3 separate regions of the Homo sapiens genome follow, and all the other regions are linked to region 1. Evidence: fine-mapped expression QTL. A gene starts in region 1. Each other region holds a variant in brackets. All regions are shown on one strand. Distances are from middle to middle.

What was found. PIP is the estimated chance that this variant, and not a neighbour inherited with it, causes the effect.
Region 2: its variant is fine-mapped to the expression of CST3 in whole blood (TOPMed, PIP above 0.99).
Region 3: its variant is fine-mapped to the expression of CST3 in whole blood (TOPMed, PIP 0.93).

Annotation. Positions count from the first base shown.
Region 1 is chr20:23,635,353-23,640,526 of GRCh38, forward strand. It overlaps CST3 (cystatin C), which reads right to left and starts at 2,603. Exons shown (of 3, transcript NM_000099.4): 1 at 2,268-2,603; 2 at 1-15. The coding sequence starts at 2,510. RefSeq lists silencers at 2,138-2,387, 2,418-2,757.
Region 2 is chr20:23,752,792-23,758,041 of GRCh38, forward strand. No RefSeq gene overlaps it. Among named protein-coding and RNA genes, the nearest start is that of CST1, 4.5 kb to the left of the region's middle. RefSeq lists enhancers at 1-412, 3,771-4,521. The variant T/G (reference allele first, on the strand shown) is at 2,019.
Region 3 is chr20:23,663,281-23,668,530 of GRCh38, forward strand. LOC107985383 (a long non-coding RNA gene) reads left to right here. Exons shown (of 5, transcript XR_001754712.2): 3 at 3,058-4,222. Among named protein-coding and RNA genes, the nearest start is that of CST4, 23 kb to the right of the region's middle. The variant T/G (reference allele first, on the strand shown) is at 2,922.

The DNA of each region.
Region 1 (5,174 bases):
CACCCCAGCTACGATCTACACATGTGAAAGAGCAGGAGGCAGGGACAGCACGTTCTGTCAGTTTCTTACACACACAGGCACTTCACTGTGACCGGGTCACTGGGCTTGCCTGGGGCTTCAAGCCTACCTTCATGAGCTGCCCACATTGTCACCTGCAAGGCACACAAGCCACCTCCTCCTGCCAGCTGGCAGGGATGCCATGCCCCAGGCCTCCCCGGTAACTTGTTTCTCTATGCCAATGCCAAGGATTAACTGAATTCCGCTACCTATGACCCAGGGGGCAGGGACACTGGATCTATTCTAGGAAGGTTCTCATGTGATGATGAAATTTCGGCAAACTTCCAGTTCCTGGCATTCAGTCCACAGAGCATCTCATTCCTGCCATTTAACCCAGAGGTATTTTTCCTCATTTCTCACTAGGAGATGAGATGCTCACATACATTGATGTTTTAGGCCAATAAACATTGCTTCCCACGTGCTTCCATTCCAGGTGTGATTTTCAAGGCAATATTTCTAAAGTGAGTCACACACCTGCATGTCTTAGGGTTGCAACTTCAGAAGAGAACTGAATGCTTTCCCTGCACAGTGCCGCCCCAAAACATGACTTGTCAGAACTGTGGAGAAGCATGGGATGAGGGACCCTGGGACCAGGGTGCTAGACCTTGCCCTGTGGAACCACACACAAGTCCTGTAGAAGCACAAGCAAGGCCTGTGATCCCTCTGGTGTCAGTCTGCTCCTCTGTAAAATAGGCTCCAGGGCCCAACGATCTACAATGCCCCATGCTTCACTCCCAGTGAGAGAGAGGTGCAGGCCAGCGGGGACCCTACACCAGGGAATGGCCCTCCTGTGCAGGGAGAGGGCCCCAGCTGACGGCTGCGGGAGAAACGCGGCTGGTCTGGACTCCTCTGAATTTCCAAGAGAAGGTGGAGGAGCTCTAAAGTCTGTGTCACTGTTCGCTGCTCTGCCATGGGATGCAGGTCAAGCTGGGCCTGGTAGCCCTACTGAAGCTCCCTCCCGATCCGACCCCCTACTCCGGTCTGCTGGGTGTCTTCATCTGGCTGAGGTCTAACTCTGCATCAGCTGATAGAGGCAGGGTCAGGCATGCTCCACCCCAGCAGGGACTCAGCTGCCCTGGGATGTAGGGGGTGGTCAGCCGGCCTGAGGGTGAAGGCCGCTAGTCCTAGGGGACTGTGCCCAGGGGTGTGACTTGGGGAGGGAAGCAGGGCTCTGCAGGACAAGGTGCCAGGCTCACGTGTGGCCCCTGCGGAGAGTATTCTGGGAGGAGGATGAGCCGCATGGCCTAGATCTCATCTTGAGCAGCATCAAGCCCACCCAGAGTCAGCATAGTCTCCATCCACACCTGCTAGACCCTGGGAAATGGCACGGTCGTGGCACAGACCCAGCTGCTGCTGCAGGTTAAAAGAGGCCGAGGGGACAGGACAGGGCTGAACTCATGCACTCATGGCCCAGGAGCGTCCTAGGGCACGAAGGCCGTCAACAGACAGGGAAAGCTGAATGAGTCTGAGCATTAGATCATGAATGTGTCAGTGCTGATTTTCAAAATGGAATAGTGATTATGTGCGATATTGCCCTTGTTTTTAGGAAAAACACACTGAAGTGTTTACTTTCAAAAGATTCAGGCAAAAAATGCATATACAGTACATATACACACACCCATATTCACATTCGGAAAGTGAGCTGGGGGGAACAAACAGGGCAAAATGTTAACATCTGTGCTAACATCTGAGGGATCTGGGTGAAAGATCTACAGGGATGCCCTGTGCTATTTTGCAGCTGCTCTGTAAGTCTGAAATTACGGGAGAATAAAAAGTTAAAAGAAACAAAAGTGCTTAAAAATTATTTGGTGGAAGAACAAGGAGGCAGCCAGATGAGGGGCTCTGTTTTTCCTTCTCCTGCGTATTCAGCAGCGCACCCGGAGCCCAGCGTCCCAGGAGGTCGGGACAGAGCTGTGTGGGACGTCCTGTGCCTGCCCCCGCGCTGCGGCGCAGCTCGAGCTGGCTCCTGGAAGCTGATCTTAGGCGCCGGGCGCGGACCTGACGTGTCCGTGCGGTTCCAGGCCAGGCCAGACTCAGGGCATTCCCGGACACGCCCGCCAAGGGCTCGGGGGTGACAGCGAAGACCGGGAACAGGGTCCGGGTGAGAAGCCCAGGCGCCGGAGAGGAGCAGCACGGGGTCCGGGAGCAGCGCGGGGGGAGGCTGGGACGGCGGGGCCGGGGCTTCGGACCCTGCGGGGGGCGGCACGCACCTGCTTGCGGGCGCGCACCACCTGCAGCGCGCGGCTGTGGTACATGTCGTTGCTGGCTTTGTTGTACTCGCCGACGGCAAAGTCCAGTGCACGCCGCACACCCTCCTCCTCCACGCTGGCGTCCATGGGGCCTCCCACTAGGCGCGGCGGCTTGCCGGGACTGGAGCCGGCCGCGGGGCTCACGGCCAGGGCCACGGCCAGGATGGCCAGCAGGAGCAGCGGGGCGCGCAGGGGCCCGGCCATGGTCGGCTAGGACGCGGGACGCGGGGAGTGGGGCGCAGGCGAGAGGCTGGAGCTAGATAGAGAGGACCCGCTGCGATACCGAGGCGAGGCCGTGAGCCCCGCGAGGCCGGCGACTGCGGTTTTATCCCTTCCGGCCTTCGCCGCCCCACCCCACCGCGGCCTGCACTCCCTTTTCCGGAACGCCTCGTCCCTCCCACCTCCCTTCTCCCTCCCCGCCTCCCCTGCCTCTCCCCGCCTCCCCTGCCTCTCCCCGCCTCCAGGTCCCTCCCTATCAGTCTCCTCCCATCCCAGCCTCCCCTGCCCCTCCAGGCTTCCCTGTCCTTCCCCATCCATCCCCTTCCCTCCCCTCCCAGCCCCTCCCGGCCTCTCCTCTCCCTTCCCGCCTCCCCTCTCCCTCCCCTCCTCCCCTGGCCCCCCAGTCTCCCTGGCCTTCCCTATCCATTCCCATCCATCCCCTCCCCTCCCCTCCCCCTCCTCTCCTACTGTCTTCCAGCCTCCCCTGCCTCTCCTATCCTCCCCATTCCTCCCCATCCATCCGACCATTCCCACCTCCCCACTTCGGGCCCCTCCATGCCGCCACTCTTCAGGCTCCTTCTCCTCTGTCCCTTTCCCCTTTCAACCCCCAGACACCGCCTCCCATGCCCCTCATCTCCCTCCTCCACTCCTGTCCTTGCTCCCACTTCGCCCCCACCCCAGCTCGGCCCCTCTTCATCGCCCCTCCCTCGTCCCGCCCCTCCTCTGTCTTCCCTTCCTACCCATTCCTGGCCTCTCCCTGTCCCTGTCCCTCCTATCCTCTTCTTTCCCCTCTTCTCACCCCACTCCTGGCCCCTCTTCCCCCACCCCTTCCACACCTATGCCCCCCTTCTACCCACTCCACCCCCTCAGCTCCATCTCTTCCCAAAGACCTGTCCCTCCTCCCAAGCTTAGGTCACCCTGCCCTCCAGAGAGGTGTCAAGGCCCCCTGGGCCCTAAAAGCATACGACCCCCTAGCTTCATTTCCTCAGAAAAGGGAAAGATAGAGGTCTCGGCCTTCCGGAGTCTTCAGAGGTCCTGAGTATCCGTGAGCATTTGGTCAAGGTCTAGAAATCACTAAGGCAGAGGTGTGATTCCAGAGGCCACAGGAGACTCAGGCCATGCCCTGTGCTAGGGAACTTTTCAAACAGAAGAATTAACCTTTATTTGAGTAAAAAACTCTGGGTTCTCCTTTCACAACTCATTATTCAGTAAACAGACTTTTCACCAGCTTCCCCCTGCACCAGGTAGTCTAGGAGCTAGAGACGGAGCCTGGGTGACCGAGCCATGGACACTACATTGCAGGGCTGCTGCCAGACAGAAATGTGACACGAACCCAGGAGCAATTTAAAACTTTCTGGGAGACACATTTCAAAAAGTAAAAAAGAAACAGGTGAAGGTAATGTTTATAATATTTCTTACTTAACCTAATATATCCAAAATATTATTTCAACACATAAGAAGAATCATTAATAACATAGGTTATTTTATTTTGGGTGTGTGTACTGAGTCTTTGAAATTCCCTGTGTATGTGGGTGTCAATTGTACTGGCCCCATTTCAAGCACCCTGTGGCCACATGTGGCTGGTGGCTGTGGCACTGCACAGCCCAGCATTAGGGTGTGTGGGAGGATGGCGAATAGTGATCAATAATTAATATCAGGAAATTAGTCTCTCTGTTGGAAGTGAGAGTATGGGATAGAGAGAGATGATGCCACTGGACCTGGTCAGGGAGGACTCTATGAGACTGGAAAGGTGAGAAGCCCTGCCTAGACAGGAAACAGCCCCAGGCAGCGGGAAGGGCCAGTGCAAAGGCCCTGAGGCGGGGCTGGGCATGCCTGCTCCAGGAAGAGGAAGCTCCTGGAGGGAGTGTGAGCAGGGAAGGGAACGATCTGGAGTCTCATGGTAACTGTGGGTGGGGCCGGGTGGAAGGTGCAGTGAGACCCATTGGCAGGCAGTGGGGGTGTCAGGAGAGGGAGCAGCAGCCACAGGATGAATGTGGGAGCCCACGGGTGTCTCTTGCTCCTCCCCTCTGGGCGTCATGCTGCTGGCGCTGGTCCTCTGCACTGCTTGGAAAACTCACCTGAGTTTAGAACATCACTGTGAGTGAGGTAGAATTTATAGACAACAAAATGTCTAATCTGGGGGATTTCATTAACGCATATACCCGTGTTACCACTTTGTCCAGACCTGTGACATCTGCCTTGCCCCAGACGGTGTGTCCTCCTGCCTCTGCAGCTCACCCTCATGCCCATCCTGCCCTGGCAGCCCCCATCCTGCCCTATAGACTCGTTTGTCGCCTGTCCTTGAGCTTCCCAGAAATGGAGTCCTGCAGAGCAAGCCTGGGTGTGTCTTTGTCCTTTGCTCAGTGTGGCTTTCCAGTGGGCCCTGAGTTCCTTCATTGCCAGGATTGTGAGTTCTTCTCCCCAGACTGAGAGGACCTGATCAGCTGGGTGCCCTGTGGGGTGACAAAGTCCCCAGCTTGGGATGCTGCGGACCTGGGCTGGAATGTGACTCCAGGAGTGGCGAGGGTGGAAAGGAGGCTCTGAACAGACAGCTGCTCCCTTTGTTCTCTCAACCCCACCCTCCATGCCTGAAGGTGACCCTGTGGCAAATGCCCTTATGGCGAGGTGGCAGCTTTGCCAGAAACACCA
Region 2 (5,250 bases), 120 kb after region 1:
CAGCTCGGGATGCTGTGGGCCTGGGCTGGAATGTGACTCCAGGAGAGGAGAGGGTGGAAGGAGGCTCTGAACAGACAGCTGCTCCCTTTGTTCTCTCAACCCCACCCTCCATGCCTGAAGGTGACCCTGTGGCAAATGCCCTTATGGGGAGGTGGCAGGCTTGGCCAGAAGCTACAGGAAACCCTGGACCTTAGCAGGACACCCAGAGGACTCTCCCAGGAGTGGTGGAGGTGAGCGTTGGCCAGTGTCAGCCCAGACCTGTTTAGAACACTAAACAATACTATAATAAACAAATGACCAAGTGCAGAAACCATCACATAAAGGTGCAAGTGATGAGGACAAGCTGGCCAAGAGTCATCCTGGGCTGGGACATGGCTGGGGCTGGATCAGCAGGAACCCGGCATTGGGAACCATATTACTCATGGGTGCTCATGTTCAGTATTAGTACAGGGAACCTTGTTACCTGAGGCCTGGTGACCATCTCACCCCACTGTGAATCCAGCACCCCTAGAATAGCCGTGCAGCCCGGCAGATACAGCAGGTGTACCGAAGGTGTTTACTGCTGGGTGAAGGAGGGAAGGTCTTCAAACAAAGCTGCACATATGCCTCCTAGTTAGACAGGAAATGGGGAGAGATTTCCAAAGAAGGGAAAGAGAAGGAAGTCCCTTACCAGGTGTTTGGGAGCAGAATGGTCATCTCCAAAGGGTAGGAGTTAGTTCTCCTCTGTGGCTCCCACCTTCCTGGGACAGCTGGGAGTCCAGGCTCAGGAAGACATGCTGTGCAGAGGGTAAACTGAAGGTCAAGCAATCCTCTTGTTTTTTTGTTTGTTTTTGTTTGTTTGTTTTGTTTTGTTTTAATCATTGGAAAGGAGATGCAGGTAACCCAAATAGCGAGAATGTGCTGGTGGGTGGAGTATGAGGGAGGGAGGCCAGAGTGCTGACCTGTGCCCTGTATGTGATGACACCACCAGTGGTCATCTTCTGTCTGGGCACTGGCATGCACTGCAGGGAGGGTCAGCTGTTCTGATGCAGCAAGCTCTCTAATCCCAGTAGGAAAAATACCAGTGTACATTGCTCTTAGGAGGAGGTACAAGTGCGATGTCCAGTATGGAGTGATAGGAAGTAGCAGGTTGAGGTAGCTGGCCAGCTGCTCCAGATGTTTGATGACCTTAGGCAAATGGTGTGTCTGTCATGCATCTGGAGAAAGAGGCTACTTTCTAAAGCATAGTATCTGGGAGTTAAGACCAGCAGAGATGAGCAGACTTCAGCAGTGATGTATCAACATGGTTAAAAATGATGGAGTAGCCAGGTGTGGTACTGCACCTGTAATCCTAGCTTATTAGGAGAGTGAGTCAGGAAGATTCCTTGAGTCTAGAAGTTCAGTTTCAGCCTGTGCAACACAGTGAAACACCCATCTAAAAAAAATGGCAGAACACTTTGTTCCCTGATTTCTATAGTCCACAGTTTTAAGGACACACTAGAAGAGGGCCAGATAGCAACCATGGACTGAGGAACAAGCTTGGGGCCTCCAGCACCCATGTAACCTAGAGGAGTCCAGCTGCCCAGGAGGGGGCATGTTTTCCTTCTGCTAGGTGACAAAAGAGAAAGCTGTGTTCCCCTAGGCTGCACAGGTGAACTGATCTGATTATCTGAATTAGTAGGATGAGAAATTAGGTGAGTGGCAGAAGTTCTCTGCAATAAATGACCAATAATAAGTGAACACTAAACAATACCATAATAAATGACCAAGCGCAGAAAGCATCATGTAAAAGTGCAAGTGGTGAGGACAAGCTGGCCAAGAGTTGAGATTCTGCACAACTGGGTTTTGAGCAACTAACAGTTTGGTCTATGGTAGGAGCTGGGACTGAACAGCCACAGGATTTGGTGGCTTCTCAAATGGGAAGCCCAGGAGCCTCCTTTATGGAGTGCCTGGAATTCTCTGGGGTCAAGCTCATCTCTTTCACACTCCATCCTTCCTTCTTTTCTCCCTCTCCTCACACATCGTGGACACGTGGATGC[T/G]TCTAAATTATGGGCCCATGTTGGTAACACATTTGGCTCTGTTAGGACATGTGGATGCTTCTAAACTATGGGCCCATGTTGGTACCACATTTGGCTTTTCCACATCATTAGGAAACTGATACTCATGGGGAAGCCTGCTGGCAGCCCCGGCTGGGAAAGGCAAGAGAGGGCAGAGCCCAGTGTCAGGTCTGATTGTTTTGCACTCCGTGGGGAGAAAGAGAATCCTTTCTCTCAGGGACCAGCACATGAATGGTATTCCTGGCTCTGGAGTACAAGTTAACATTTATTTTTCAAAAATCAAAAAGAGCATTTGTCAGTGCAGATTCACTGACTGAAGAACCACATATGAATGGAGGGGAGTAGGGGCGGCCTCCGGAACTCGGGCTGCTGGCTGCTGCAGCCAGGGATCCATCTGACTCCCTGGGCTACAGCCTGCAGAGGCCTGGCCATGAGGAAAACAGATGACTCTGAGGAGGTGAGTCATCTCCTTGACATCTCTGGGTGGTCAGACTTTCTTATCCTGTTTGGGTCACTGCTGGGACTTCCCTGTCACTGTTTGTGTAACCTTAAATATCAATTCCTTTAGCAAAATGCAGTGACTGTGGAGATTGGTTCCTCTTCCTGCTTGGAATCCTGTTCAACTCAATCACTGAGTGTTGGAGCTGGAGCCAGAGGCCATCAGGACAGCCCTGCTCCCTCCTGTGGCCCTGCCTGCCCTTTCCTCCTGTCACAGAAGAGCTGGATCCAGTGACAAGACTCACCTTGACCAAACCCTTGTTAGGCTCCTCTGAGCCTTCCTCTGCCCTGGTCCTCAACCCTAGTCCCCAGCCCTGGACCTCCTGTTCTTGCGAGGGCTTCATGGCCCAGTTTTAGGAAAGAATCCTGCTAAGTCAGTTTAGAAAGGCTCCCCCCCACCCTTGGTATCTGATCACCCTCAACATCTGACCAAGTTCTTCTTTCCTTTGATGTCTAAGGCTTTGTCCTGGCTTTAGCAACAATATTGTTAGGTCAGTTTATCTAGAACCTCCTACCTTTGATGTCTCTGCTTAGTAATTCTGTTTGAAACCGTTCCAAAGCTACTTTAATAATGACCCAATCATTCCATACTGTAAGTGAGATGATTTTACCCTCCCTACTTGCTTGTTTTAATTGTTTTCCAATTTTTCTCCAATCTTTTAGATCTAAAGTTCCCTGTTCTAGAAACCATGGGCAGAATCGTTCTATTGTTTGAAATAGCGTGATTTGATTTTTTGTAGAAACACTAACTCCCCCACTTTTTACAAAAATTTTAATAGAGCTGAGATAAGAGGCATATTTACTTTAGTTTGCCCCATTGTTACCCTGGCTTCTTTCGAGCTTACCACAAGGCTGACTGTAGACGTACTCGGGAATCTCTCATCAACTTGTCCTCAGTGACCACGCTTGAGCGTACCTTCACCCTAGAGGAAAGCACCCACGTTGGGCACCAGATGAAAGGGTGGCCAGCTGCTCCACACCTGTGGGCATTTCTCATTGGGTGGGATGAGAGACTGAGAAAAGAAAGAGACACAGAGACAAAGTATAGAGAAAGAAAAGTGGGCCCAGGGGACAAGTGCTCAGCATAGGGAGGACCCACGCTGGCACAGGTCTCTCCGTTCCCTCAGTATTTATTGATCATTATCTCTACCATCTCAGAGAGGGGGTTGTGGCAGGACAATAGTGTAATAGTGGGGAGATGGTCAGCAGGAAAACATGTGAACAAATGTCTCTGTGTCATAAACAAGGTTAGAAAATGTGCTGTGCTTTGATGTGCACATACATAAACATATCTGGTGCATTAAAGAGCAGTATTGCCAGCAACATATCTCACCTCCAGCCTGAAGGTGGTTTTCTCCTATCTCAGTAGATGGAACATTCAATTGGGTTTTACAAGCAGATATTCCATTGCCTAGGGAGTAGCAGGAGACAGATGCCTTCCTCTTATCTCAACTGCAAAGAGGCCTTCCTCTTTTACTAATCCTCCTCAGCACAGACCCTTTACAGGTGTGGGGTTGGGGGATGGTCAGGTCTTTCCCTTCCCACGAGGCCATATTTCAGACTTTCATATGGGGAGAAACCTTGGACAATACCTGGCTTTCCTAGGAAGAGGTTCCTGTGGCCTCCTGCAGTGATTTGTGTCCCTGTGTACTTGAGATTAGGGAGTGGTGATGACTTTTAACAAGCATGCTGCCTTCAAGCATTTGTTTAACAAAGCACGTCCTACCTAGCCCTAAATCCGTTAAACCTTGAATCAACACAGCACTTGTTTCTGCCAGCACAGGGTTGGGGGTAGGGTTACAGATTAACAGCATCTCAAGGTAGAAGAATTTTTCTTATTACAGAACAAAATGGAGTCTCTTATGTCTACTTCTTTCTACATAGACACAGTAACAGTCTGATCTCTCTTTCTTTTCCCTACACACATCTACATGGAAACTGAACAACCTGCTCCTAAATGACTACTGGGTAAATAATAAAATGAAGTAAAAAATGAAGATGTTCTTTTAAGCCAATGAGAACAAAGACACAACGTACCAGAATCTCTGGGACACATTTAAAGCAGTGTGTAGAGAGAAATTTATAGCACCGAATGCTCACAAGAGAAAGCAGGAAAGATCTAAAATCGACACCCTAACATCACAATTAAAAGAACTAGAGAAGCAAGAGCAAACAAGTTCAAAAGCCAGCAGAAGACAAGAAGTAACTAAGATCAGAGCAGAACTGAAGGAGACAGAGACGCAAAAAACCCTTTAAAAAATCAATGAATCCAGGAGCTGTTTTTTCTGAAAAGATCAACAAAATTGATAGACCACTAGTAGACTAATAAAGAAGAAAAGAGAGAAGAATCAATAGACCCAATAAAAAATGATAAAGGGAATATCACCACCAATCCCACAGAAATACAAACTACCATCAGAGAATACTATAAACAGCTCTATGCAAATAAATTAGAAAATCTAGAAGAAATAGATACATTCCTGGACGCATACACCCTCCCAAGACTAAACCAGGAAGAAGCTGAATTGCTGAATAGACCAATAACAGGCTCTGAAATTGAGGCAATAATTAATAGCCTACTAACCAAAAAAGTCCAGGACCAGACAGATTCACAGTTGAATTCTACCAGTGGCACAAAGAGGAGCTGGTACCATTCCTTTTGAAACTATTCCAATCAATAGAAAAAGAGGGAATCCTGCCTAACTCACTTTATGAG
Region 3 (5,250 bases), 28 kb after region 1:
GGGAAGCAGAGGGAGCTCCTTCCTCAGTCTCTGCCCATGCATTCTCTTCAGTGCCCTAGTCCCTGCCGTCTCACACCCCGTTTCTCTGCTCCAAGGAACAGTACAGGGTGTGGACGCTGGTGAAACACATCCGTAGTAACCAGCTGGCCTGTAGCTTCATGGTACTGTGGCTTGGCTGGAAGTCCATGCTAGGATGGGAAGCATGAGCCGGGACTTTCCAACAAGCTGAGCACACAGGCCTGTGTGTGCTGGGTGGGGCTGGGGTCTCAGTGCTGAGGCAGCACTTTGCTGTATTTTTAATTTTTAATTTTTTGTAAAAGATAAAAAGATGATGGAAGTATGTCAGGAGGACACAGGAAGCAGCTTAAAGGGGCTCTACTAGTCAACTCTGAGAAAATTTAAACATTCAAATAAATGATAGTAATAGATTACAATTCATTGAATAAAATAAGAAACCATGAATCTTCTAGATCTGTGGATAAATAGATGATTAACAAATAGAGAGATGGAAAGATAGATACAGATAAAGGAGAAAAGTTCTTCCTTGGAGTAAAAAGAATGCCATTAATAAATATAGAAAAAATGAAGCAATTTTATTTTTCTATATTTATTAGAAAAGAAGTAATAATAAACTTTTTTATTGTAGTTTTGAAGTGACTTCAAACTTACAAAAAGCAGCAAGAGTAATATAAAGAGCTCCTGTACACACCCAGACCCTCCCACTCCTCACATTGTGTCTCGCGCGCTTTTCCCTCTTTCTATATGTGTATGCACTGTTACAGCTTTTCCTGAGCCATTTCAGAGCAAGCTGCAGGTGTGACTCCTTTTGTCCCTAGACATTCTCATCTGTGTCCCCTAAGGCCAAGGACATTCTCCAGCACAGCCTCAGTGCAGTGAGAGGAATCACAGCACTAGCATGGGTCCACATTGTCGTCTAATCTGTCATCCATGCAATTCATCAACTGTGTGTCATTGTCAGGCCGCCTCAGTCTCCTCTGATCTGAAACCGTTTCTCAGTCTTTCTTATCTTTGTAATCTTGTCATTTTTGAAGATAACTGGCGATTTCATGGAATGTCCTCAACTGGGCTTTGTCAATGGATGAGATTCAGGCTATGCAGATTTTCAGAGAAGAATTGTAGATGTGATCTTGTGTCCCTCAGTACCTCCTACCAGGAGGCCATAACATCGCTGTCCCATGGCTGACAGACACTAACTTTGATCTCTAGGTTCAGATGGTATCTGACAGATCTCTCCACAGTATGGTTTACTCTTCTCTCCTTTATAATTAGGAATTATTTCACTGAGCAATACTTTGAAATATGTATTTATGTCTTACTTATAAAGTTTTCACTTTTGCTTTCTAGCTTTAGCATACAATAATAATTCCTCTTCGAATCAATTGTTATTATGATTGCTTTCAAATTGTATTCCTAACTTCGTTTTTAAAACATACTTATAAATGGCATTCATTCTACTGCAAGGAAACACTTTTCTCTTTTACCTACCTATCCATCTATCTGTTAGTCATCTATTTTGCTATAGATCTATCCCACTCATGGTTTCTTATTTTACTCAGTGAGTTAGAATGTATTGCTCTTGTTTATTAGAATGTTAAAATTATCTCAGAATAGGCTAGTGGGAGCCCCTTTAAGCTGCTTCCTGTGTCCTCTTGACATATTTCCATCATTATTTGAGCTTATCCTTACTTTCTGATATAACAAGAAGTCCTAGATTTATGTTTTACTTTCTCTGATCCAAGGTGAAAATCAGTGGTTGGAATCTGCAGTGAATGCAGAAAGCAATTCCCGCGTGCTGCCTGTACTCACCACTCCTGGAATGCCGTGAGGCCTCAGTCAGAGATTCTCAACCTGGGGCAATTTTGCTTCCCAGGGCACATTTGGTAATGTCTAGGGATGTGTTTGGTTGTTCCAATTTGTAAGGCAGGTGCTACTGGCATTTAGGGAGAGAGGGCAGGGATGCTGATCAACATTCTGCAATGCATAGGACATTTCCTAGGTCTCACATGGCCACAGTGCAGAAGTAGAGGAACCTTGTTCTTGGCCTTGTCTGTTGGTCAGTGCTACAAAATACACACAGAAACTTACCCACGTGTAGATAGCTATTGTTCTATTACCTATTTACGTATTAAAAACTCTGAGTTAATATTGACACCAAACCCAATGCAATGAGATTCTTTCCAGTCCCCTCCTTTCTATAGTTGTGGCTCTTTTCTTGGACATTTATAAATCTTAGTTCCATTATCATCAATATATTTACTTGCTTTCTCTGTACTAGAACTCACAGAAGGTGAAACATTATTCTAGATCAGTGTTTCCCAATTTATCTTCACAGGACACTCTTTCTCATGGTTGCTGATACATGTTAGCCCTTCCCCGCAAAACACAAAGGGTGTGAGGAACAGAATCGTCTAGGAAAGTTGGAAGAGAATGAATCAGATTCTCATTGCAAGTATTTTTTGTTTTAATGAATATTCTAATGTGCATTGGTATCTCTGAATGGAGGCTTTTGTATACAGTATAATTTCAATGTATTCTTCAGGGAATCTTTGAAAATGTAATTAGCAATATATATTAACTCATAGCCACATTTGTGCTGTGTGCAACAGTTTGCAAACACTGTTTTAGATCTTTTGCACCCTGCAAGGAGTTTTTCTAGAATTTTCCATGAACATAAAGAGTTTCATGCTTTTGCGGAAATTCATTACTGAGAAATATTTATACAGCAGGTTTTCTCTGTAGTAGTACACTATTGCATGAGACTGTGTATGTGTGTTTGAGATTGTGTGTGTGCATGCACCTGAACAAGGCACCAATCCCTCAGGAGCCTGAGAGCTGCCCACTACGGGTCCCCTGATGGCTCACTCCATTCAACAGCTCTTGTGTTCCCCCGGAAGCCCTCA[T/G]CGCTCTTCTCTGAGGTCTCTGGGTTCCCACTGCAGCATTTGTTATCACTGTCGTAGTTCAGCAGCACCATGGCATTTTCCTAGGGTAGCATCACATTGAAGATGCACTCACTTTACCTCCTGTGCTTCCTTCCAGTGGGCTCAACCTACTCCAAGGCACCCTCTTCTGGTGAGAATCACAGGCCTAGAAGGAAAGAAGGGGATGTCTATCAGCTGCCATGCCTGTGCCTCTCTGCTTCCTTTGTTCCATGCACATGGCACACTGTCTACTTGCTCAATGCTGTGGTCTCAGCCCTAGCACTGGACTCAGTAAGGAATTAGTTGAGCGAATGAATGGATTCTCCAGCAATCTTTATAAAATATGTTTTCCACATTTTTCAGACAAGGAAACTGCAACAAAAAGTGTCAGACCCCACACTGTGATCTCAACACTGCTGAGCTCTGCCTGGAATCTTGGAACTCTCCAGCGATCTCCTCTCCTTAAGAGTGGACGTGGGATGCCTCCACGCATTCAGTCAAAATAAGGTTATGGTGTGCCTGTTGTGTGCTAGGAATTATCTTCTCATCAGAAAAAGAATCTCTCTATGTTTTGGGAATAAGTGAAGAACAAAATGATGATGTGTAAGAGGTTCTTGCCAAATTGGTCGGCACAGAGAAGCCCTGGAGAAAGGCTGACAGTATTGCTGGTGGGGGCTCTGCTGGCTGGTTTCCAGGACTCTTCCTCTGGGACAGCTTGTGCTTCCTGCCACCCTCCCCAGGGTCATTTCTTATCCTTCCCCAGTTGCATTTTGATATTTCCTTTTAAGATTTTACTGTTTTTCAAAAGATCCAAAAGTAATTAAAACTCTAGCCATTGAAATGGCAGTTCTAACAAGTCGTCTTAGAGTCATTGTCACCTCATGGGGCTGCTAGCAAGGTATCCATATGAAATCATCTTATCCACACTGGGAAAGTCTCTGACACACCCATAAAGGCATGTTCATCCAGTATGCACACTGAGTGTCCTCCACATTCCACAGATTGTGAGAAGCACAGACACATTACAGAGAATGAGATGGATACAATATTGCCTTAAACGAACTGGTGGCCAAGCCAAATTCTAACTGCAGAGAATGATCAGGAAGGAGCGATTTGAGGAAATAACATGTGAGCTAGACTTTTAAGGAGGAGAAAGAGCCAGCTGCAGAAAGCCAGCAAGAATGGTGTTTAATGCAAAGAAAATCATAAACCGACCCCTAGCTGGAAATGATCCTAACCTGTGGAAGCTCCTGAATTGAGTGAGGAACCGGCTGGCAGGAGAGGTAAGCAGACTGGGTTTGGTGGATGAGCAGATATCAATTCCTGCCATGCCTTGCACACCGTGCTGAAGAATTTCTATTTTACTCCAAGTGAAATGAGAAGCCTTTGAAAGCTTTTACCAGGACATGACAAGACACCTTTTATATTATTAGAAGGCTGGCATGGCCACAGGGAAGGAACAGGCTTCTAGTTGGTGAGAATGGGAGGGTGGAGAACAGTCAGGAGGACATTGCAGTTGCTCAGGAAAGAGAGGACAGTGACCTGGGCCTGTGCCGTGGCCGGGAGTTGGAGCACAGGAGACTCAGGATGCCTATGAGAGGTGGCGGGGCAGGACTTGCTGAGGGCTGGGTTGAGGGCGCAGTGAGGAGGAAAGAACAGAACTCCAGCCCAGGCCTGAGTAAGTCACAGGATGGTTACTCAGCCAAGGCAGAGGTGAGGATGAGCAGATTGTCAGGGCTGGGGCTTTGGGGAGGAATCCAGAGCCGTCCTCATAGAGTGTTGGGGCGTTATGCATGTAGGACTGTGGATCTCAAATGCCACCCCGTGGATCCAGCTTAGAGGTTCAGGTTTTACGAGAGTGCAGGGGAGGGCACCTCTCAATTTTGATCATGGACTTCATTTGGGGCAGTACCACATGGTTTTCCATTATGAATTAGTGATAGTCAATTTTAATCTTTGCCAACCATATTTGGAAAATTAACATTAGCAATTCTTAATCTAAAAAAGCATGGATTACAGGAACCCAGAGTCTATAACCCATGGCTTGGAAGGTGTCTGAGAGAGATCCTGGGCTGTGTCAGATTTCGCAGAGAGGGTGGGTGGCTGACCTCTGAGAGATGGAGGGCTTCTGACAGGAACTAAGGTGGGAAGAGTCTCGCAGAGCGGCAGTCTTCCTACCCCACGATAAAGAAGGTGACAATATGTTGAAATATGACATGTGAAGATGAAGAGATCATGAAGAGAATCCTCCAAGGTGGCAGATAAACCACAAAGCTACAGGGCAATTCCTGTGCCCCCAGCCACCTGCCCT